4 separate regions of the Homo sapiens genome follow, and regions 1, 2 and 4 are each linked to region 3. The links come from fine-mapping of genetic effects on gene expression. A gene starts in region 3. Each other region holds a variant in brackets. All regions are shown on one strand. Distances are from middle to middle. Region 1 overlaps PCDHGA1 (protocadherin gamma subfamily A, 1). Region 2 overlaps DIAPH1 (diaphanous related formin 1). Region 3 holds the start of FCHSD1 (FCH and double SH3 domains 1). Region 4 has its middle 5.7 kb from the start of ARAP3.

Region 1 (6,122 bases), 200 kb after region 3:
GTTTGATATCGCCACAGGGAGGAATGTGGTAGGAGTTATTAAGAAATTATTCTGTAATCCCAGCACTTTAGGAGGCCGAGGCGGGCGGATCAGGAGGTCAGGAGATGGAGACCATCCTGGCTAACACGGTGAAATCCCGTCTCTACTGAAAATACAAAAAATTAGCCGGACGTGGTGGTGGGCGCCTGTAGTCCCAGCTACTCGGGAGGCTGAGGCAGGAGAATGGCATGAACCCGAGAGGCGGAGCTTGCAGTGAGCTGAGATCGCGCCACTGCACTCCAGCCTGGGCGACAGAGCGAGACTCCGTCTCAAAATAAATAAATAAATAAATAAATAAATAAATAAATAAATAAATAAATAAATAATAAAAGAAATTATTTTATGCAGATAGACAGGAAAAGGGGTCCTTGGGAAGTTTTCATTTTTTAAAGCATCTCCGGAAAAGTTTCTTTTAAAGCCCCGGCTCTAGGAGCCAGGCCAGCAACCTTTGATATGCAAATGCAGGCCATTAGAAACTAGGTCCATTCAACTTGGCGATTCCCACAGCCTTCTTGCCCTTGCCCCACAAGTTCCTGGCCACATGGCTGCCCCCCACATATCTCCACGTGTTTAGAACATCCATGGCGCCCTACGTTTGCATATTAAAAGGCTGGGGTGGGAGGGCCAGCTTTTTCTCGGGCTACGTGAATGATATGCCTGGTCAAACCAATCCCCTGAGCCCTATGCAAATCAGACATCACCTCCACCAGCCTCTGCATATATACCTGGCTGGTATCCGCGGTAGATGGGGACCTCCTCTTTTGGAGCCCCGCTCCCTCTGTCTCTGTAAGGGGGAGCTCCTTCCTTCTGTCTTCTCCCTTCCTTCTTGCCTATTAAACTCTCCGCTCCTTAAAACCACAAACACACACACAAAATTGCTAATGCAAGATGAAACTATGTAAAGTGATGTTAATAATCAATGGGAAGAAATGCGATTGTACTATGACCTTTAACATTTTTTGTCAAAGCATTAAAAACTCTTATTGGTTGTAAATTTGTAGAGAAATAAAAAAACTAAAAAAAAAACCAACAAACTAATATTTATTTAACACAGTGTAATTTAAAACATTAGACCCACCGGGCGCAGTGGCTCAAGCCTGTAATCCCAGCACTTTGGGAGGCCGAGGCGGGCGGATCACGAGGTCAGGAGATCGAGACCATCCTGGCTAACACGGTGAAACCCCGTCTCTACTAAAAATATTTTTTAAAAAATTAGCCAGGCGTGGTGGCCGGCGCCTGTAGTCCCAGCTACTCGGGAGGCTGAGGCAGGAGAATGGCGTGAACCCGGGAGGCGGTGCTAGCAGTGAGCCAAGATCGTGCCACTGCACTCCAGCCTGGGTGACAGAGCGCGACTCTGTCTCAAAAAAAAAAAAAAAAAAAAAAAAAAAAATTAGAACCATGGAGGATTATTTCCTTGTAAAAAACATGTCAAGATTAGTTTGGCCTCTTTTCATCCTATAACATATAATATGGAATAAGCAGGTGGAGCATGGTGGCTCATGCCTGTAATCCCAGTGTTTTGGGAGGCCGAGGTGGGCAGATCACCTGAGGTTGGGGGTTCGAGACCAGCCTGACCAACATGGAGAAACCCTGTCTCTACTAAAAATACAAAATTAGCCGGGCGTGGTGGCACATGCCTGTAATCTCAGCTACTTGGGAGGCTGAGGCAGGAGAACTGCCTGAATCCAGGAGGTGGAGGTTGCGGTGAGCTGAGATCATGCCATTGCACTCCAGCCTGGGCAACAAGAGTGAAACTCTGTCTCTAAATAAATAAATAAAAAGGAATAAGCACCTTTTCTTCATCTTGACAAGTTGCCATACTCCTTTCTAAGTTTGGATCAACTTCCAACATTTTATTTATTCTTGGAGGTTTCAATGCTTTGAAATATCTGAGAGTTCCTTTAATGTGAAGTTTTTGCTGGCATTACTTTCTCTGGGACATCTTCATCCTTTTCATCACAATTACTTTTCTCATTCATGTCAATAAATTCACCTTCACTAAGCTCCTTTAGCTGCCCTTCTAGAGATTCTTGAAAGTAGCAGTGTGAACATTCCCATGGTCAGCTATTTCTTCTATAACTCCATTTATGTTCAATTCAAATTTCACTGAAAACATTATCACTTTTGTTTCTTTGCTGCACTTTTATCTTTGCTGGCCAATTCTTAATACATTTTTCTAAAATGTTATGTGGGTTTATCACTGGAAGGCAACACAACTACATGCTTTGCTGTCTGTGCATGAACTAAATTATAGGCACACAGTGACTGATCACTGACATACTTTGAAAGAAGTCATGTGATTGGCCACATTATTTTGCTCATCTGTTATTTTCAAAGTGCTCTGTGGACTGAAGGGCTAGCAGCCAAGTTTGTCCTTTATGGAACTACTCAAAGTTAATATACCATGGTAACTAAAATTTGAATTATTTTTAGGAGACTTATGTTATTTAAGCTGTAGTAACAAATATTTTTATAGTGAAACTGTTCAAAGCCAGGACTACCTACATAGTGTGTTACCTTTTGTGTAAGAAAGAAGAGGACATAAGAAAATATAAATATGTATAGGTTTTGTTTTTGCGTTTTGCAAAAAGAAACACAGTGAGGATAAACCACAAACTAATGAAATCGATTATCTACAGAGTGTGGTGTGAATGAGGCAGAAGGTATAGGGGAGGAATGACAATTTTCTGAGTACACCTTTTTTTAATAGTTTTGACTTTATGTTAATGTTTTACATATTCAAAAAAGAATACTAGGCTAGGTGTGGTGGCTTATGCCTGTAATACCAGCACTTGGAGGCTAAGGCAGGAGGATCACTTGACCCCAGGAGTTCAGGGTCAGCCTGGGGAAACATAGTGAGACCCCATCTCTAAAATAAATAAATAAATAAATAAATAATTAAAAAATTAGCCAGTCATGGTGGTGTGCACTTGCAGCCCCAGCTATTTGGGAGGCTGAGGTGGGAGGATCGCTTAAGTGCACGAGGTTGAGGCTGCAGTGAGCTGTGATTGTACCACTGGACTCCAGCCTGGGTGACATAGCGAGACCCTATCTCAAAAACAAAACAAAACAAAACAAAACAAAAAAGCAACAGAAAATATACTAATCAACCAGAGTGTGGCAAAACTCTAAAACTGCACATAATAGAAACAAACTTTATTTTAATGAATCACATAACTATACTACAGGTAACTTTTCAGCACAGTACTTTGACAATATACCCTCAGTTTAAAGACAACCAATTGCAAGCAAATCTTCAGCAGCTCTTTCTTACTGTATAATGCCAACTAATAAAAGT[G/A]GAATAAATTATTACAAATGGAGTTAGAAAATCATCTCCCCAGAGTGTGGGCTGGACCAAGTGATTTTGCTTCTTATGAACAAACTACAGCAAAAATGATGGTATGTTACTTTCTCAGTTTTCCCTCCCTCCCTTCCTTCTTCCTTCTCTCTCTTCCTCTCTCCCTCCCTCCCTCATTCCTTCCTTTCTTTCTTGACAGGGTTTCATTCTGTGGCCTAGGCTGGAGTGCAGTGGATGGAGCAAATGAGTAAATATATTCATAGCACTGGGAGCCAGGGTTCTTACTGTTGGAAAATAAAAATACAAAGATGGAAAGGGGGAAGGCTAGGAAGAACCAGAACTGGAGGTATCAATATGAACTCACGATTTTGAGGGAGTGTGTGTACAAATATAAATATGGGTGTGTTTATGTGTGTTTTTCCTAGCTCCGTCTGCTGACAAGGCCTAGAAACAGTGACAGCCCATTAGCAGTGAGCATACCTCACACCCAGATCTTAGTTTCTAAATACTATTCCCTACTAAAATGAAGCAAGGCTTTTGGATAAATGGTTCATCTCAGAACTGGAACAAGGAAAGTATGAGTCTCTAATATTTTCTTATATCAGAAAGTAAGAAAGGGTTCAAGAAAATGAGAGAGTTATGGCAAAAGGACACAAGAACCAGCTTGAAGAGGTTCTTATTGGTAACATCTAAAACAATTTGAGGTCAAAATAAAAAATGTTAGTAATAGAATATAACTCATTGGAAAAAACACATGAGCCATATATGAATAAATAAGAAGAGAAAAGAAAGCTCTTTCTTACTGTATAATGCCAACTAATAAAAGTAGAATAAGTTATTACAAATGGAGTTAGAAAATCATCTCCCCAGAGTGTGGGCTGGACCAAGTGATTTTGCTTCTAATGAACAAACTACAGCAAAAATGATGGTATGTCACTTTCTCGGTCTTTCCCTGCCTCCCTACCTCCCTTCCTTCCTCCCTCCCTCCCTTGTTCCTTCCTTTCTTTCTTGACAGGGTTTCATTCTGTGGCCTAGGCTGGAGTGGAGTGGTGTGATCTCGGCTCACTGTAACCTCCGCCTCCTGGGTTCAAGCAATTCTCTGGCCTCAGCCTCCTGAGTAGCTGGGACTATAGGCATGCACCACCAGACCAGCTAATTTTTGTATTTTTAGTAGAGGCAGGGTTTTGTCATGTTACCCAGGCTGGTCTTGAACTCCTGGGCTCAAGCAGTCCACCCTCCTTGGCCTCTCAGAGTGCTGGAATTACAGGTTTGAGCCACCATGCCTAGCCTTGTATGTCACTTTCAAAATTAGGTTTATAAAAAGATTGTGGCTTTCATCACATTTGCCCTCTCTGGCACTCTCCTTTACTTGCTCTAACAGAAGCTGGTTGCCCTATGGAGGTCCACATGGCAAGGAACTGAGGTAGACCTCAAGCTAACAACCAGCAAGGAACTGGAACCCTTAGTCTAACAATCCACAAGGAACTTAATTTTGCCATTAACTATGTGAGAGAGATTAGAAGCGGATCCATCCTCTGTTGACCCTTCAGATAAGACAATAGCCTTAGGTGACACTTTAATTGCTGCCTTGTAAGACTTTGAGGCAGAGGCACTCAGCAAAGCTATACCCAGTCCTGATCCACAAAATTTATGAGATAATAAATGCTTCTTTTAAGCCACTAAGTTTTGGGATAATTTGTTACACAGCAATGGCTAAATAATATACTACCAAAAAAATGTCTAGTCTAAATACAATCATAAGGCTGGGTGTGGTGGCTCACGCCTGTAATCCCAACACTTTGGGAGGTCAAGGTGGGTGGATCACAAGGTCAGGAGTTCGAGACCAGCCTGGCCAATATGGTGAAACCTCGTCTCTACTAAAAAAAATACAAAAAAATTAGCCGGGTGTGGTGGCACATGCCTGTAATCCCAGCTACTTGGGAGGCTGAGGTAGGAGAATTGCTTGAATCTGGGAGGCAGCGGTTGCAGTGAGCCGATATCGCACCACTGCACACCAGCCTGGGTGACAGAGCAAGACCCCATCTCAAAAAAAAAAAAATAATAATAATAATATTAAATAAATAAATAAATACAATCATGAGGTCCGGGCACGGTGGCTCATGCCTGTAATCCCGGCACTTTGGGAGGCCAAGGCGGGCGGATCACCTGAGGTCAGGAGTTGGAGACCATCCTGGGCAACATGGCAAAACCCCGTTTCTACTAAAAGTACAAAAATTAGCCAGGCATGGTGGCAGGCATCTGTAATCCCAGCTACTCAGGAGGCTGAGGCAGGAGAATTGCTTGAACCTGGGAGGCAGAAGTTGCAGTGAGCCGAGACTGCGCCACTGCATTCCAGCCTGGGTGACAAGAATGAGACTCCATCTCAAAACAAACAAACAGACAAACAAACAAACAAACTCTATATATAAAATCACGAGGAAACATAAAACAAATATAAATTAAAGGCATTATACAAGACAAATGGCTTCTAGTCTTTACAAATGTCAGTTTCATATAAACAAACAAGGCTGAGGAACTGTTTCAGATTAAAGTAGATTAAAGAGACATGGCAACTAGGCCACACATGGTGGCTCACGCCTGTAATCCCAGCACTTAGCTGAGGTGGGCAGATCACTTGAGGTCAGGAGTTCAAGACTAGCCTGGCCAACATAGTGAAACCTTGTCTCTACTAAAAATACAAAAATTAGCTGGGTGTGGTGGGAGTGTGGTGGCACATGCCTGTAGTCCCAGCTACTCAGGAGGCTAAGGCAGGAGAATCATTTGA
Region 2 (6,122 bases), 56 kb after region 3:
GTACTAGACATTCAACAGGAATAAGGTTGAGGGAGTACACTGCTCTGTATTTTCTGCTTCTGAGCTTACCATATGCAACCTCTGGGTCTCCTGAATAAGTCAAAGCGGGAAAGTTCTGTGGTGTGGGAATGAGTATCCTTGACAGTCCAGGTAGTAGAGCAGAGAAGGAAAGAAAAAAACTGTTAACATATGGTCCAGACAGGCCAACCATCTGGGTCAGATTCACCCAGGTGTTGTGAATTTTAAAAGCCAGAACAAAAGCAGATGATGGTGATGACAGGCTTCAAGGGTCTGGCTCAAGTCTCATTGCTCCCTTTTAGCTGGTGGTTCTCTGTACCTGGCACATACAGTCATCCTGGAACCTTTATCCCCGGGATTTCCTTCAATTTCCTCATGTGTTAGGTTTCATTTCCTGTATTTCAAGTCTTGCACTTTTTTGGTTTGCATCCTCATTTTGGTGGAGCATGTCCTACAGTAGCTTCCTGCGGTATATGGGAACAGATTTTTTAAAGCTTAAATGTCTGAAAATGTCTATTCTAAGCTGACATTTGATTGATAGTTTTTGTTGGGTATAGATTTGTAGTTTGGAAATTATTTTTCTTCAGATTTTTAAAGGCCTTGTTCCATTGCCACCCAGCTGTTGATATTATTGTTAAGAAACCCAGAACTGCTCTGATTCCTTTGTATATGACCTGTTTTCATCCTTTCTGTGGAATTTTGTAGGATTTTCTTTGTATTCCGGTGTTTTGAAATTTCACCATTATATGCCTTTGAATAATCTATTTTTGTCCTTTGTGCTAGAGACTTATCCTTCAATACTGGGAAATTTTCTTTATTTCCTTGATAACTTGCTCTCTATTTTATGTTTTCTCCTATTATTTGGATATTGGTCCTCCCAAACTGGTCTTCTAATTTTCTTATCTTTTTGCTGTACTTTTTGGGGAATTTCCTTAATTCTTCCAGTCCTTTTATTGAGTTTTCATTTCTGTTCTTGTATTTTAAACTTCTAATGACCTCTTTTTCCTCTGAATGTTTGTTGTGGATATTAATGATTTTTAGAACATCTTTCTTCTTGTTGCATACTGTTTATTTGGCAAGTTGCTTCCCCCAGCCCCGCTTTCTCTCATGTTAGGATCTTTCCTCAGATGTCTGATAATCCTGGGTTGTCTACTCATGTTTAAGAATGAGGGATTACAAAGCAGATTGGAAACTCTAGGTGCGTGGGTAGGATTTGAAAGCTGGTTGCTTTGCTGTAGGACAGCACCATCCAATAGAAATCTAATGTGAATCACATTGTAAGTTTAGATTTTCTAGTTTTAGAAACGTGAAATTAATATATCTAAAATATTACTTCAATATGAATGAAATATAAAAATTATTAATGAAATATTTTACTTTTTTATATTGTTATGAATTGCAGTGTTTATTTTACATTTACAGACATCTCAACTGAGACGCTAAATTTTTATTTATTTATTTATTTATTTATTTTGAGATTGTCTTGCTCTGTTGTCAGCAATGTGATCTCAGCTTGCTGCAACCTCTGGGGGCTCAGCTGATCCTCCCACCTCAGCCTCCTGAGTAGGTGGGACTACAGGCAAGCGCTACAATGCCTGGCTAATTATTATTACTTTTTTTTTTTGAGACAGAGTCTTGCTCTGTCACCCAGGCTGGAGTGCAGTGGTGCGATCTCGGCTCACTGCAACCTCTGCCTCCCGGGTTCAAGTGATTCTCCTGCCTCAGCCTCCCGAGTAGCTGGCACTACAGACGCGTGCCACCACGCCCGGCTAATTTTTTGTATTTATTTTTTAGTAGAGACGAGTTTCACTGTGTTAGCCAGGATGGTCTCGATCTCCTGACCTCGCAATCCACCTGCCTCAGCCTCCCAAAGTGCTGGGATTACAGGCGTGAGCCACCGCGGCTGGCCCATGCCTGGCTGATTTTTAAATATTTTTGTAGAGGCAGGTTTTGCCATGTTGCCCAGGCTGGTCTCCAACTCCTGGGCCCAAGCCATCTACCTGCCTCAGCCTCCCAAAGTGCCGGGATTACAGATGTGAGCCACCACAGCCAGTCCCTAAAAATTTTTTTAAGCCTTTTTTTTGAAGAGCAGTTTTAGGGTCACAGCAAAATTGAGATGAAGGTATAGAGATTTCCAATATATCGCTGCCCACACACGTGCATGGTGTATCAATCCGTTCTCACACTGCTATGAAGAAATACCTGAGACTGGGTAATTTATAAAGGAAAGAGGTTTAATTGACTCACAGTTCTGCATTGCTGGGAAGGCCTCAGGAAACTTACAATCATGATGGAAGGCAAAGGAGAAGCAGGCACCTTCTGCTTTGCCTTCTAAGGGTGGCAGGACAGAGTGAGTGCAAGCGGGGGAAATGCCAGATGCTTACAAAACCATAAGATTTCATGAGACTCACTTGATATCATGAGAACAGCATAGGGGAGACTGTCCCCATGATCCTATTACCTCCACCTGGTCCCGCCCTTGACATATGGGGATTATGGGGATTACATTTCAAGGTGAGATTTGGGTGGGGACACAGAGCCAAACCATATCGCATGGCCTCCCCCATTGTCAACATCCCCCACTAGCGTGGTACATTTGTTGCAATTGGTGAGCCTGCATTAACACATCAGCATCACCCAGTCCATAGTTTACATTAGGGTTCACTCTTAGTGTTGTACAATCCATGAATGACATATATCCATCACTATAGTATCATACAGAGTATTTTTCACTGCCCTAAAAACCCTCTGTGCTCTATTTATTCATAACCTGCCTACCCTACCTGCCTCCCCCAACCCTTGGCAACCACAGTTCTCTTTACTTTTTCCATAGTTTTGCCTTTTCTAGAATGTCATATAGTTGGGTACATATAATATGTAGCCTTTTCCTTTTTTCTTTCTTTTTTTTTTTTTTTGAGATGGAGTTTCGCTCTTGTCGCCCAGGCTGGAGTGCAATGGCGTGATCTCGGCTCACAGCAACCTCTGCTTCCCGGTTTCAAGTGATTCTCCTGCCTCAGCCTCCCAAGTAGCTGGGATTACAGGCACCCGCCACCATGCCCAGCTAATTTTTGTATTGTTATTAGAGAAGAGATTTCACAACGTTGGCCAGGCTGGTCTCAAACTCCTGACCTCAGGGAATCCACCTGCCTCAGCCTCCCAAAGTGCTGGGATTACAGGCATGAGCCACCGCACCTGGCCGCCTTTTCCTTTTTTTGAGACTGGGTCTTGCTCCGTCACCCAGGCTGGAGTGCAGTGGCTCGATCTTGGCTCACTGCAACCTCTGCCTCCCAGGTTCAAGCGATTCTCATACCTCAGCCTCCCAAGTAGCTGGGATTACAGGCACCCACCACCATGCTGAGCTAATTTTTGTATTTTTAGTAGAGGCGGTGTTTTCACCATGTTGGCCAGTCTGGCCTCAACCTCCTGGTCTCAAGTAACCCACCCGTCTCAGCCTCCCAGAGTGCCATGTTTACAGGTGTGAGCTACCG[C/T]GCCCGGCCATATGTAGCCTTTTCAGTTCAGCTTCTTTCTTTTAGCAGTATGCCCTTAAGATTAGCACTAAGACAACAGATAATGTTCTGTTGTCTGAATGTGCCATGGTTTAGTTACCTGTTCACCTACTAAAGGATGTCTTTGTTGCTTTCAAGTTTTGGCAATTATGAATAAAGCTGCTGTAAACATTTCTCTGCAGGTTTTTGGTGTGGACATACGTTTTCACTTCCTTTGGATAAATAAATACCAAGGAGCATGATTGCTGGATCTTATGTTAGTGTATGTTTAGTTTTATAAGAAACTGTGAAACTCTTCGAAAGTGGTTGTACCATTTTACATTCCCACCAGCCATGAATTGAAAGTTCTTGCTCGGCTGGGTGCGGTGGCTCACGCCTATAAATCCCAGCACTTTGGGAGGCCGAGGTGGGCAGATCGCTTGAGGTCAGGAGTTCCAGACCAGCCTGGCCAACATGGTGAAACCCCATACTAAAAATACAAAAATTAGCCACGTGTGGTGGCATGCGCCTGTAATCCCAGCTACTCGGGAGGCTTGAACCTGGAAGAAGGTTGCAGTGAGCTGAGATCATGCCACTGCACTCCAGCCTTGGTGACAGAGCAAGACTCCATCTCAAAAAGAAAAAAAGAAAAGAAAGTTCTTGCTCCACATCTTTGCAAGCATTTGGCATCATCCGTGTTGTGGATTTTGGCTATTCTAGTAGGTATGTAGTGGTATCTTATTTTAATTTACACTTACCTGATGACATATGATGTTGAGCTTCTTTCGTAAGTTTATTTGCCATTTAAATTTTGTTAAATAAAATGTAATAAATTCCTCCTCACTTACACTAGCCACCTTAGTAGTGCTGTACAATTATATGTGCCTAGTGGTACATGTTGGACAATGGAGCTCTGAAGTGATCTACTTGGACTATGTCACAAGCTTTAAGTTGATTCCCCAGAGAAGACACTTCCAACCTTCTGTCTCAAGGGGAAAGGCCAGGCTGCTGGGGCTCTAAGAGACTAGAGGGGGAAAAGTGCTGAGTGTCTCAGTATATACTATGCCTAGGTTTACTTTTCTTTTTAGTATAGGGACCCTGGCATCCTCCAATCCAGAGACCCTCCGTTTTACCCTCTTCTGAGAACAAACTTCCAGACCTCTGCTGGAAGAAGGGAGGGTAGTTTCCCAATGGCATGGTTGAGGGGTGGGGTATGATCTAGGGATCTAACTGCTTCTTAAACAGCTTCCAACCAGTCTTATTTTTAGCCTCCCCCTCCTTTAACTCCCATTTCCATAGGTATCTGGTGCCAATTATTCCTAAGCCTTTTGAGGATCCTTAAAGTGTAATGGGTTGGTTATTGCTCTTTCCGGTTTAGGACTCAGCTTTCTGTAATGTGTTGGATTTAATACCTCTAGTTCTTCTAGTCCCAGTCTTCAAAATTTGCAGTTGCTCTTTTGTTCTTCCCAACCTTGTAGGCTCTTTCCTTGCATCACTTCTTACTTTCTAAAAAACACCTTTTCTGTAGGTTTAGTGAGGTTTCAAGAAGGAGAGAAATTAGATGTTTTGGTTCAGTCTGACATCTTTTACCTGAAAGTTCCTATTAATCTGGATTCCTAAGCCAGATTTGGATATTTTAAAAAAATTCATTCTGTATTTATGCTTCCTTCAGTATCTATATTTGTAGTTAAAGGTATAAGTGCTAATGTTTAGTGGAGGACTCAATAGAAGGGCCAGGAAGTGAGATATTTACCACAGCCAGCCTAGGACAGTAAGGGTTTGGTTTGGGACCAGAAGAGAATTGACAGCAAACAAGGAGAATGATGAAAGTGGATGCATTTAGATGTAGGTAGGATGATTAGAGACTTAATTTTAAGAATCTTGGATATCTGAGACCTAATACATAAATAAAGCTCCAGTAGCATTTATCTCCCTGGACTCCTGTGTTTTTGTTGTTGTTGTTGTTGTTGTTGTTGTTGTTGTTAACTTGTCATGATCTAGGAACTTATTCTATATTTCAGAGAATACACACAACTAATGATACAATTAAAAAATGACTACTGAACAAAGCTGTTTGCCAACATAGAATCTGTAAGAACACACATAGTATTAACTAAGTAAACAATACACTCTGAATATACTGTAGCAGCAGGTTTCTATTTTAATAATTGAGCTTGCTGTTTGAGTGTTGTATTGGATTCTAAAACCGTTTTGCTTGTACTGACTGGGCTGTGATTCACTTTGCTGGTTGTTGCTGCCCTCTGTTGGACTAGCTCAGGAAATGCAGCTTTTTTTCCCTCGTGGATCATGTTTGCTGTCCTTCCCCAAATTGAACACTAAAACATGGGTAATTTTTTTTAAATTTTCTTTCTTTCTTTTTTTTTTTTTTTGATACAGAGTCTCGCTCTGTCACCCAGACTGGAGTGCAGTGGTGCGATCTCGGCTCACTGCAACCTCCGCCTCCCGGGTTCAAGTGATTCTCCTGCCTCGGCCTCCTGAGTAGCTAGGATTACAGGCAGGCGCCACCACACCCGTCTAATTTTTGTATTTTTAGTAGTGATGGGGTTTCACCATGTTGGTCAGGCTGGTCTCAAACTCCTGATCTCGTGATCCACCCGA
Region 3 (6,122 bases):
AATGCTTTGGAAACCAGAGGCCTGGGTGATGTTAAAGTCTATCCTGTCCCACTTCCTACATTCTGGGACTACCGTGAAGCCTGGAGTAGGGAGAGCGAGTTTGGGAGCTGGGACTCGGGGAGTCAAAAATAGATGAGTAATTGTCAATAAACCTGGGAACCAAAAGACTACCATTCTCATTCATTCATTCAACAAATATGTATTGTGCACCTAATTGGTGCCAGGTCTGGGGATATAGCATGAACAAAACAAACAGGGCCCCTGCTCTTATGAATCCTCCGTTGTGGAGGGGAACAGAAAATAGCAAATAAACACATAAACCAGTACTTGAACAAGTGAGTTTAGTGCTGTGAAGAAACTGAACCAAAGTGATGAGCTTGAAGAGTGATTGTGGAGGCCAGGCGCAGTGGCTCACACCTGTAATCCCAGCACTTTGGGAGGCTGAGGGGGATGGATTACCTGAGGTCAGGAGTTTGAGACCATCCTGGCAAAGATGGTGAAACCCTGTCTCTACTAAAAATACAAAATTAGCTGGTTGTGGTGGCACGTGCTTGTAATCCCAGCTACTCGGGAGGCTGAAGCAGAAGAATCACTTGAACCTGGTAGGTGGAGGTTGCAGTGAGCCGAGATTGCACCATTGCACTCCAGCCTGGCAACAGAGCAAGACTCCATCTCAAAAAAAAAAGAGTGATTGTGGAGATGGTCTTTGGATGGGTGGATGGGGAAGGCATCTGTGAAGAGTTGCAAAGTAAGGGAAAGAAGCTGTTGGAGGCGACAGATGGAACGCTGGAAGGAGGAGATTCTGGAGAAAGAAAGCAGGCATGAAGAACTCTGCATTGGAAGGGACTTGGTCTACTGAGGGAACAGCAAAGAGGCTGGAGCACAGTGAGCAGACAGTGGGAGGAGAGTACAGGCTGAAGTAAGAAAGACCAGCAGGGTCTTCCATGCGTAGCCTTGAAGGCCATGGATTCTATTTGGATTTTATTCTGAAGCAAGTGCATTTTAAGCAAGTAAATTATGAGATCTTATTTCCCTTTAAAAAAGAAAAAAAAGGTTGATCACTCTGAGTGCTGTGTGAACAGTGGGTTGGGGTGAGGGCAGTGTGGAAGCAAGGAGATCAGATATTAGACCAGAAGTCTAATAATGGGGGCTTGGACTAGGATGGTGGTCTTGGAAATTGAGGGAAGTGGATCAAGAGGTTTTTGTTTGTTTATTGTTGTTTGAAATAGAACCTGTAGGACTTACTGATGGATAGAATGTAGGGGTAGGAGAAGGCACATTGACTCTGGGTTTCTGACTTAACTGACTGGAGGAAATGCGGTGCCATTTAAAACGTTACGGGGGGAGGATCAGGTTGAAGGAGGTTTAAAAGCTTTAAAAGTTGAGGTTCCTATTAGATATACTAGCAGAGGTGTCAGTGGGGAGTTGGAATGTGAATCTGGAGTTTTGAGACATGTCAGGGGTACTGGGACAGGTGCCTGAGCCAAAGAAGCTTAGGTGAGGAGGATGAGGAATTGGGGAGAGGCTCCTCAGGAAGCAGTGCTAGGGCTGGAAGATCCTAAAGGTGGCAGGGGCTTCCTGCGCATCTCCCAGCTCTCGCCGACTCACTGGTATCGTTTAGTTTTCAGTGGGGCCAAGTCTTTTTCCCTTTGGGCCTGGTTCCTTCCTGGATCCAGGCATCTTTCTCACCCCGCTCACGCTGGCTTTTCCAGTTAAGCGGGAATTAGGAAAAGGTCTGGGACCAGCCCTCTCTTCGTCAGATGCATCTTTGCTCAGGTGCCCAGTGACTCAGTTTCCCTGGTCACACACTGAATTCCTCTCCATTCCTCATCATTAGCTCGGGGACTGGGGATCTACATATGCAAATGAATAATTATCAATAATTACAGGCTGAATCAGTGGTTACACTACAAATAGAACTTAGGCGTCTTGACTCAGATGCCTGGGGTTCTTCCCACCGCCCAGCGGACGCTGCGTCCGCCCCGCCCGCCCCGCCACCCGGACCCTGCCGGCGTATTCGCAGCAGTAACAGGTTTAGTTTCTCGGTGGCCCCCTCTCGCTTCCGCGCCCTGCGACGTCGCCGGACAAGTCGTGGGCGGGCAGAGGGCGGGGCCTGACCTGGCCTGGGGCGGGGCTCCATAGTGGGCGGGGCTTCCTCCAGTTCCGGAGTCCAGTGGCTGACCGCCTTGCTGGAGCGGAGATGCAGCCGCCGCCCCGAAAAGTGAGCTTGGCCCTGAATGGGGACTCCTGGCGGGCTGGGGGAACGGAGGGAGCTAAGGGGGCATCCGACTTGTGGTAGGAGACGGGAAGTCGGAAGGGGTCAGACCCCAAACCAGAAGTAACAGAGGAAAGAGCTCAGCACCCCCCCGGCCCCGCCCCCTCACCGCTCCCTGCGCGGAGTGTTTTTTAGGTCCTTGCGCTGGGGTCTTCATCCTCTCTTTGCCCCCACAGGTGAAGCCGGCCCAGGAGGTGAAGCTTCGCTTCCTGGAACAGCTGAGCATCCTTCAGACCTGGCAGCAGAGGGAGGCGGATCTGCTGGAGGACATCAGGTAGCTCCCCCAACCCCCTTCATTTACACTCACCTTCGTCGTTGTGCGCCACTTCTCCCCAATATACATGTGCTGGGGTGGAGGAACAGGGGCCAAGAGCTCCCCAGCCGACCCATCCACAGCCCTCACCCTAGGCCTGGCCTCTCCAGATACTGGATAGGAATGCTCCCCCACCTAACCCCTCCCAACCCCCTCCCACCCACATAAACACACAGGAACCCTCCCTCAAAGCCCTTGACTCCACACCACTGCCCCCAACCCCACAATCAACCTTAGGGCAGAATCCCTCTCCCTCTTCCAGACCTGTTGGAAGGCTGGCAGACATCGTACCCAGGCCCCCATCAGTCTTCACCTCTAAGCCTACAGATGAACCTCTGGGGTGGGGAGGATCCTGCTGGGGCCCGGGGCAGTAAGGTGAGGGTTTCCTGTGTTGCAGCTGCCCGAGGTGATCTCAAGGACTCCCATCAGTCCCATTCCCTCTGGGTGTAGTTACACTCTAGGAACCTGGCTCCCCCCAACCGCTCCCTCCTGCCCAGAGTAGAGGACTGAGGATGGGAGAACAGGACCAAACATAACCTTATCCCCCACCTCACCCCCGACCTGCAATCTCCGCAGATCCTACAGCAAGCAGAGGGCAGCCATTGAACGGGAGTATGGGCAGGTATGGGACTTTTCTCTGGACCTTACCTCTTGTTCCAGCCTCTCTTATATCACCAGTAATGTCTGTCCATACCTATCCCTATTGTGGTCAAGAGCAGATGCCTAGAGTCAAGCAGACTGGTGTCAGATCCCTGCTGTGTAATTATAGCCATGTGACCTTGGACAAGTTACTTAACCTTTCTTGACCTCAGTTTCTTTCTCTGTGAAATGGGAATAATAATAATACCTTACCTTCATGTAGGGTTGTTGTAAGGATTAAACAAATTAATGACTATAAGGCATTTAGCAAAGCAAGTGGCACATAATGTACCCAAAGAATGGTATGATTATACTCTGATGTCATATTCTGCCAGTTGGGGTGGGTCTTTGAAAGGGAACTTGGTTCTGTGATGGCTTTTTCACCAGGCACTCCAGAAACTGGCTGGCCCATTCCTGAAGAGGGAAGGGCACCGGAGCGGTGAGATGGACAGCAGGTGGGCCCTATGGAGGGGGAGGGCCACAGAGGCCAAAAAGTGATGGGGAGCTCAGCCCCAGGAACCTGTGGGGATGAAGGCCTAGCAAGTGGGGAAGGCACGTGAGCTGTAGGTAGAGCTGACACAGCAGCAGCAGAGGAGCTGACCCAGCAAGGACACTGTGGGTGGGGTGGAGGGCAGGAGTGAGGCTTGTGGCTGAGCTAATGGGCTGATCGATTGATGGGCTCCCAGACAAGGGAGGATGGGAAAGCACTCTGTCTCCCATGGTGTTGGTCAGGGGGCAGGGGGTGGGGGTGGTCTCATGAAGCTGTGGAGTGCTCTCCTCCTCAACACAGACCTTCTCTGGGGAGGGGCAGGACAGTGTTCGGTGCCTGGCGCTGCCTGCTGGATGCCACCGTGGCTGGGGGCCAAACCCGACTCCAGGCGTCTGACCGATACCGTGACCTAGCAGGGGGTACAGGGCGGAGCGCCAAGGAGCAGGTGCTTAGGAAGGTATGGCTCAGAGGTTGGGGTGAAGGAAGAGCTGGCTTGGGACCAAAGGTGGTCTAGGTAAGGACTTTGTGTATGCATCCCAATAGGGAACAGAGAACCTCCAGAGGGCGCAGGCTGAGGTGCTGCAGTCTGTCCGGGAGCTGAGCCGAAGTCGGAAGCTGTATGGGCAGCGGGAACGTGTGTGGGCCTTGGCACAGGAGAAGGCGGCTGATGTCCAGGCCAGGTGGGGTCATGGAGAGTGAGGAAGCCCAAGGTTGGGGAACAGGGAGGTGGGGCTGTCTAGGGGTGGAGCCAAGTCACCAAAGCTGGGCCTGACTCTGATCTCATATTCTCCCACTTGGGGTGGGCCTGACTCCTTTCTCTCATCTGCACAGGCTAAACCGAAGTGACCATGGGATCTTCCACTCTCGGACCAGTCTCCAGAAACTGAGCACCAAGGTTCGAGGGATGAGGGCATGAGTGGGGGCAGGGAAGAGGGAGGCAGAGTAGTCTAGTGGTTTGGAACATAGGTGCATATGTATGAAAGACTGGGTTGAATCCAGGCTCTCCTACTTCCTGGGTGGGTAACCTTGGTTAATTTACTTGATCTCTGTGAGCCTTATTTTCTTCTATAAAATGGAGAGAATACCCTTCTTTTTCAGTCCTTTAATATGCATTTATTGAGGATCTGTATATAATAGGCACTGTTCTAGACATTATGGATACAGTGGAGAACACTACCAATGGAGTTCCTGCCCTCACAGTCTGGTTAAGAGAGACAGACAGCAAATAAATACTTAGATTAAGATGAAAATAAAACAAGGTACTATGATAAAGAATAACAAGGGGGTAGAATTTAGAGGGAGGCCTCTCTGAATAGGTGGCCTAACTGTCAAGAAGGAGCTGGCCTTGCAAAGATCTAGGGGAAGAACATTGCAGAGAGAAGAAATGGTGAGTGCAAAGGGTCTGAGGTGGGAATAACTTTGTAGGCTCGAGGAACTGAGAGAGGGCCAGTATGGCTGGAGTACTGTGAGCAAGGGAACAAGCGCTTGAAAAGAGGTCAGAGAGATTGCGGGGGCCAGCTCATATTGAACGTGGTGGACCATGGTAAGGAACAGTGGATTTTATTTTAAATGCGTGCAGAAGGCACTAGAAGATTTTGAGCAGGAGTTGTGTGTATGCAACATTTTTAGTGTAGTGCCAGGCACATAGTAAGCACTCAATAATGTGAGAATCCATTCTGGATCTGGCTTCTCAATTGGTCTTGGAAGGACTCTGGGGGTCTAGGGCTTCCTATTGACATCAGTTTACCCTCCTAGCTGTCCGCCCAGTCAGCCCAGTACTCCCAGCAGCTGCAAGCAGCCCGCAATGAGTACCTGCTTAACTTGGTGGCTACCAATGCCCACCTCGACCATTACTACCAGGAGGAACTGCCAGCTCTGCTCAAGGCCAGTTTTAACCCAGACACCCCTATCCCTCAGCAGGGAGGGAAAGGAGGACCTCCCCCTGCTTCTTGATCCCCATGACAGTGGGTGGTGCAGGGGATCTTGTCTGTTTAGAGTGAGTAGATGATACATACATGCACTCTGGTTCTGCTCCTAGCTGGCTGCATGGCATTGTACAGTACACTTAAACTCTTCCGAACCCCAGATTCCTCATCAGGGATAACCCTTTCTCTGCCTATCTTATAGCACTAGTGGGGCTCAAAGGAGAGAATGGATGTGAACGTGTTTTAAACTTCTAAGTGCTCTGCACACGAGGGCCTTTCTCATGAAGAATGTCTTCTTCTCTCCTTCCTATACCTCATGCCCATCACCTGTCAAATCTGGAACGAGCCTATTTTACAGTAGAGGTCTGGGGGAAGGGTGGTGTCAGTATCTTGGGGTTCTCTCTAGGCCCTGGTCAGTGAGCTGTCAGAGCACTTGAGGGACCCCCTGACCTCCCTGAGCCACACTGAGCTGGAAGCCGC
Region 4 (6,122 bases), 37 kb before region 3:
TCTCTCTCCCTGTCTACCCTGAATGCCTGCTCAAAAGCCCTTGAACAGAGTAGTCATGCTACCAGAGATGGAGGCTATGTATGAGCCCAACAGCATGGGCTCCCTCTCACCAAGGATGAGCTAGTTCTACCACTTTGATCACTCAACCTGCCTGCAGCCAAGACCAGTGCTGGGCCCTCCCTCAGAAGGCTCTCTTCCTCAGAAGACCAGCCAAGCCTCTGGCTGCAGATCAGTTACACTGACCCTATTCTTTCTACTCTGGAGGGGACAGTAATTCGTTCTTACTGGCAACAGTGCATGCTCCAGATTCAGGCTTGTCTTCCACAGTGTTTTTACCAAAAAAGTACAATAATGTGGTCATCAAGGACTTCTATAGTTTCTGCTCTTACATTTAGGTCTTTGATCCATTTTTGAGTTCATCTTTGTATATGGTGTATGGGATGCCGATCAACAGAGTCATTGGGCTCGCTTGGTTGCTCCTCATCACCTAGAAGCTGCCAGCCTGATGGGACAAGGGGACAGCCTGTTGAATGCTCAGTGAAGACACTGGCAGGAACATGACACCTGTGGGTTGGGGCCCTCAACTCCTTGATGCGGTATTTGTTTTGACCAGTACTATGTTCCTTATACATAGAAATTGCCAGTCCTGGAGTCAAATGTGGAAGTGGACGTGGCCCATCTCATTCACATTTGTAGAATATTTGCTTTCTGTCCCCAAAACTGGTGGCTCTGCCAATTCGAGTTTCTAGTTGCCAGGAAGGGAGAACTTATATGAAAGAACACAGTAGTTTCCACTAAACTGGAAGCTGTGACAGCCACGTGGCCACCTTATGCTCCTCATTCTAGTGGGCTAATAGACAAAGAAGGGCATTAATGTGCTGGCCAGGGCCATTGATCCTGATGGCCATGAGGAACCAGGGCTGTAGATACAATGTGCATAGATGCAATGAAGGCGGGGAGTCTGGCCCCAGCCAGGGGATTCGCTGTGGCATCTCTTGGAACTTCCCACCCGGTAGTAATTGCCAATGGACAACTTCAACAACAATTCTAAAAGGACAGGGCAACAAAGGCATCAGATCTCTTGGGGATGAACGTCTGTATAATCTCATCAGGCAAGTAGCCCAGATCTGCAGAGGGCTAGCGGAGGGTCACGGAAGGAGGGAGAGAATATCAATTATGGACTCAAGACACGCTACAGCAGTGGGACTGTAGCTTGCTTCATTAGCCCTCTCCTCTTTATCTTCCTTAAGACCACATCTGGCATTTTCTGGAAGGGGACTTGATTCCAGTGGACTGTACTTTCCCTCATGAGGAAAGAGTGAGGGCAACTTTGTCCCTGTGGGGGAAAATGCCCTGTAGGGTGGCATAGAAGTCAGGTATAATGGGAGGACTTGAGTGGATCTCAGTGGCATGAGAAATGGGCTGCCCTGAGACATGAACCTTTCTTCTCAAATTCCTTCACTACCTCCTCCTCTACTTTCAGACTTAGATAAAATGCCACACTGTACAGTGTGGAACCTGGTTTCCAAGTGCCACCAAGGGCTGGGTAACAGAACCCAGAAGCATGGGAAGGTGACTCTGTGGGGTGAACCTTGACCCATGGGAGACAGGTCATGGGTGGGAGCTGAGGACTGCTCCAAGGTGGATTTCCTCCTTACCTTCTGGAGAAGTCCCACCCACGTGCCGAGAGAGAGCACCCCTGCTGAGTAGCCAGCAGTGTCTCTGAGGGGCTTGTGTGAAGCAGGGCAGGACAGGAAGGCACCGCACTGTCTCACCTTGCATCCTCCATTTCCTCTCCCTCAGCTCAGGGCTTCCACCTGAATCCTGACCACAGGCTCTGCTTCTCAAAGACCTAAGACAAAGGGATTCCTGAAAGCTGTTTCCCCGTCTGTGTCCCACACTGTGGTCACCACTGGAGCCTGAGTTTAACCAGTCCAGCATCTCTGCTGAAGCCAAAGAAATGGAGACCCCGGGGGACAGGAACCAAGCAACTACTTTCCAGATGGGAGAGAAAGTATAGATGGACATCTGAGCAATGAGGGAGGGGCAGGCATGGTCAAGAAATCGAGTGGGGAGATCAGAGGGTAGGAAGTTAAGTCCCAGTGAAAACTGCCCCCTGTAAATGGGTCTGTGCAGTGAGTTTTCTGGGAGAGAGTGATTAGATCCTAGAAGTGAGAAGGGAGAAAAATATTATCTTTCTCCCAAGGAGTAGACAACTGCATCCATGCAAGGCAGGGAGTGCATTCTCCTGACACCTTCAGGGCTCCATATTCCTGGGTGGGGGCAGTGTCTGACCCACAGATGCTCTGGACAGTGAAAACATCAAGAGTGAGTAAACGGTTGGCTGGGCACGGTGGCTCACACCTGTAATCCCAGCACTTTGGCGGAGGTCACGAGTTCGAGGCCAGCCTGGCCAACATGGTGAAACCCCGTCCTTACTAAAAACACAAAATTAGCAAAACATGGTGGCACATGCCTATAATCCCAACTACTTGGGAGGCTGAG[G/C]CAGGAAAATCACTTGAACCTGGGAAGCGGAGGTTGCAATGAACTCAGATAGTGCCACTGCACTCCGGCCTGGACGACAGAGTGAGACTGTCTCAAAAAGTAAATAAATAAAAAATAAATAAATAAATAACCCAGTATCCGGTATTTTGTTACAGCAATGCAAATGGACTAAGATAGCCCCCCCCCCCACCCCCTCTGGTCACTCCCAAAGCCCCAGTTCATAAATACTGCATGCCCAGGGCACAACCCCATATCTGGAGTACAGCCTCACACTCCGATGGAGTTTTGTGTCCAAAAAAGGACTGGCCCAGCAGCAATTTGGTGGTTTGCAGGGAGGTAGGGCAGAGACTGAGCATGTCCAAATATCCCTAATACTCTCCTTGCACCTACCCCTGCTTTCACTCTTCTGTCTTTCTTTAGATGTGTGCAGTGGTGCACCAGAAGCTTTAAACAAAGGTCTGCTAATTCCTGGAGTCATCCTTGTCATTCTCCTGCCTCTAGGCAAAGCCCTATTTCAGCATTTTCAAGGCAGCAGGAAGGGAAGAGGAGATGAGGGACCTGAGCCCCAGCAGTCTACAGTCTGCTTTGCCTGGGATGCATAAATAGGATTGGAAGGGCCCTCGTCTTTGAGAGTTGGGTGCAGGGTGTTTTTCTAGGGAGAGATCCATAACTGTCACCAGAGTCTCAAAAAAGTTTAAGATTTGCCTGTGCTGTCCAATATTGGCAGCCAGTGGTTGTTTAAATTTAAATTAATTACAATTAAATTAAATTAAATATTCAGCTCTTCTGGCTCACCAACCTCATTTCAACCTCTCAATGGCCACATGTGGCTACCGGCTGCCATACTGGACAGCACAAATAGAGAACACGGTCCATCATTGCAGGAAATTCTATCAAACAGCACTGCCATTAATTTTATGTATAGAGAAACTGAGACCCAAAGAGAGATGACTTGCCCCAAGCCCTAAGGGGAGTTAGTACTAGCTGTAGTACTAGATACCCTTTATAAAACATTTTGCAGTAAAATTGCATTAAAAATCTTGTAAATACAGCTCATGTCAATAGCCTAGGGTGGAAGGAGACAGGGCCCAGTCATGGGAATGAGGATGCAGGGGAAGGGAGGTGTTCTGTGTTTGTTCCTTCCCTCCCCCTGACCCCAGGGCTGCCCCAGTTCTCCAGGATAAAGAAGGCGTAGAGGCCTGGAACTCCCTCCTCTCCTCAATGATGACTTCATCCTCACAAAAATGTGAGGAGGGAAGTGGGAAGGGGCTCCCTGGAGGGTAGCTCTGGAGTCTAGGGGGAAATGGCACAGCCCTCAGGCCAGAGGAATTAGGGGTAGGGAGGGCTGTGCTGACCCTAACCAGTCTCCATGCAGCCATCTTCCTAAAATTCAAACCTAAATTCATGAGTCTATTGCCCCATGCTTAAACTCTTCCCTGGCTCCCCATGGCTCCTGGCATGGAGACCAAATCTCATACAAGCCCTCCAAGGGCCTGCATGGCCTGGCCCCTGAGATCCTTTCAGTCTCAGCTGGTCCCAAACTCCCTGTCTCTTTGATCTGTCTCCCTTCCTCACCAGGCTGACTCCTACCTCAGGGCCTTTGCACTCGTGGTTCTTCTGCCTAGAACACTCCCTCCCATCCCGCTTAACTCCTACCCATCTTTCTGAGATCTCAACTTAAGCAGAGCTCCCTGCAGAAGCCTCCCAGACCCCCAGGCCAGGTCAGCTGCCTCTGTTATATGCTCTTACAGTGCTTCCCTTCAGAAAATTCATCTTGGTTTGTAATTACACATTTATTTGGGGGTTGTTTGATAAATGTCTCACTTCTTGAGCAGGTCATGTTCCCTAAAGTCTGCTGAGCACGTCATTGCATCTCTAAACCCTTGAGCAGTGGTTGGTCCAGAAAAGATGATTAATAAAAACATGAGAAATAAATGAAAGGATTGAATGGGAGTCTTCCTTCCTGTAAGAAACATGCTCGGCCGGGCGCAGTGGCTCACGCCTGTAATCCCAGCACTTTGGGAGGCCAAGGCAGGCGGATCACCTGAGGTCAGGAGTTCAAGACCAGCCCCGCCAACATGGTGAAACTGCGTCTCTACTAAAAAAAACCACAAAAATTAGCCGGATGTGGTGGTGGGCGCCTGTAATCCCAGCTACTAGGGAGGCTGAGGCAGGAGAATCGCTTGAATCTGGGAGGCGGAGTCTACAGTCATACGAGATCGCACCACTCCACTCCAACCTGGGCGACAGAGGGAGACTCTGTCTCAAAAAAATAAATAAATAAAAAGAAACTTGCACCTTGGCATCCCCCTAGGCCCTGTCCCATCTCATCAGGACCAAATGTGGGTGATGGCTGTGCCTTTTACCATCCAGAGGGTAAGGGCAGGAAAGGAGTGTGACCTGGAGGCCACTGGAGACCATGGAGGCGATCAGGAGTTGCAGGGGTGACAGGAAATTGAGTTACAAAAGTGATGGAACAGACAAGATGACAACTGGGGACCCTGGGGAAAATACAAGGGGTACAATGTGGTCTAATTTGGCAATAGGATGCCACAGGCTGATTGATTAAAATAGGTAACGGGATATGCCAGAGTGATGAAGAAACAGGCAAGCTGGGTGCATACCAGAGTTATCATGGAAGTAACTGGCAAAAATAGGAACAAGGAACAGGAAACACTTTGAGCACTCATTGAATGTCAGGTCCTTTCCACATATTACCCATATATTTCCATAGATTAATCTTTACAACCCTGTCAGGCACTATTCTCTCTCCTTTTTTCAGAAAAGGAAACTGAGGCACACAGGGCAAAATAGAGATGAATAATCTGCTCAGGTCACAGCTGGTAGAGGTGGCATCAGGGCTTTATTTTAGAGACTGTTTTTTTGTTGACCTTTTGTTTTAGTTTTTGTTGTTGTTGGTGGTGGTGTTTTGTTTTGTTTTTAGAGACAGGCCTCACTGTCACCCAAGCTGGAGTGCAGTGGTACGATCTCGGCTCACTGCAATCTCCACCTCCTGGCTCAAGCAATCCTCCCACCTCCACCTCCTGAGTAGCTGGGACTACAGGTGCACACTACCACACTTGGCTAATTTTAAAATTTTTAGTAGAGACGAGGTCTTGCTATGTTGCCCAGGCTGGCCTCAAACTCCTGCTCTCAAACAATCCTCCTGCCTTGGCCTCCCAAAATGCTGGGATTACAGGTGTGAGCCACAGTGCCTAGCCGAGAGACCTTGTTCTTAATTACTGCATACCATCCACTTTTGGTGAACAAAGTGGCCTCCAAAGTGATTGTGGCTTAATAGTCTATCATTTGAGTGGGGAACAAATCGAGACATGGAAGGGGCTATTGAAGAATTCCCTTCCACATCTCCTCATTGCTTCATTCTTCCTCTTCCTCTGCTCACTAGTGTCCCTTTTGTCCTATGTGTTAAGATTAAGATTTAAGATTTACTAATTTCGGCCGGGCATGGTGGCTCACGCCTGTAATCCCAGCACTTTGGGAGGCTGAGGTGGATGGATCACCTGACAGGAGTTTGAGACCAGCCTGGCCAACATGGTGAAACCCTGTCTCTACTAAAATACAAAAATTAGCTGGGTGTAGTGGCAGGCACCTGTAAT

What was found. PIP is the estimated chance that this variant, and not a neighbour inherited with it, causes the effect.
Region 1: its variant is the best candidate, but not a certain one, in a credible set for the expression of FCHSD1 in whole blood (TOPMed, PIP 0.58).
Region 2: its variant is the best candidate, but not a certain one, in a credible set for the expression of FCHSD1 in whole blood (INTERVAL, PIP 0.51).
Region 4: its variant is the best candidate, but not a certain one, in a credible set for the expression of FCHSD1 in whole blood (INTERVAL, PIP 0.64).

Annotation. Positions count from the first base shown.
Region 1 is chr5:141,450,104-141,456,225 of GRCh38, reverse strand. All of the region lies in intron 1 of PCDHGA1 (protocadherin gamma subfamily A, 1), which reads right to left. The region is part of intron 1 of PCDHGA2 (protocadherin gamma subfamily A, 2); the gene reads right to left. The region is part of intron 1 of PCDHGA3 (protocadherin gamma subfamily A, 3); the gene reads right to left. The region is part of intron 1 of PCDHGB1 (protocadherin gamma subfamily B, 1); the gene reads right to left. It also overlaps PCDHGA4, PCDHGB2, PCDHGA5, PCDHGB3, PCDHGA6 and PCDHGA7, and 10 more genes. Among named protein-coding and RNA genes, the nearest start is that of PCDHGA12, 23 kb to the right of the region's middle. The variant G/A (reference allele first, on the strand shown) is at 3,338.
Region 2 is chr5:141,591,853-141,597,974 of GRCh38, reverse strand. All of the region lies in intron 1 of DIAPH1 (diaphanous related formin 1), which reads left to right. Among named protein-coding and RNA genes, the nearest start is that of DIAPH1, 24 kb to the left of the region's middle. RefSeq lists an enhancer at 29-78. The variant C/T (reference allele first, on the strand shown) is at 3,507.
Region 3 is chr5:141,647,447-141,653,568 of GRCh38, reverse strand. It overlaps FCHSD1 (FCH and double SH3 domains 1), which reads left to right and starts at 2,151. Exons shown (of 20, transcript NM_033449.3): 1 at 2,151-2,221; 2 at 2,452-2,549; 3 at 3,165-3,210; 4 at 3,615-3,682; 5 at 4,033-4,174; 6 at 4,261-4,397; 7 at 4,549-4,612; 8 at 5,473-5,601; 9 at 6,049-6,122. The coding sequence starts at 2,201. ARAP3 (ArfGAP with RhoGAP domain, ankyrin repeat and PH domain 3) reads left to right here. Exons shown (of 33, transcript NM_022481.6): 33 at 1-167. RefSeq lists an enhancer at 3,551-4,129.
Region 4 is chr5:141,684,824-141,690,945 of GRCh38, reverse strand. No RefSeq gene overlaps it. Among named protein-coding and RNA genes, the nearest start is that of ARAP3, 5.7 kb to the right of the region's middle. The variant G/C (reference allele first, on the strand shown) is at 2,506.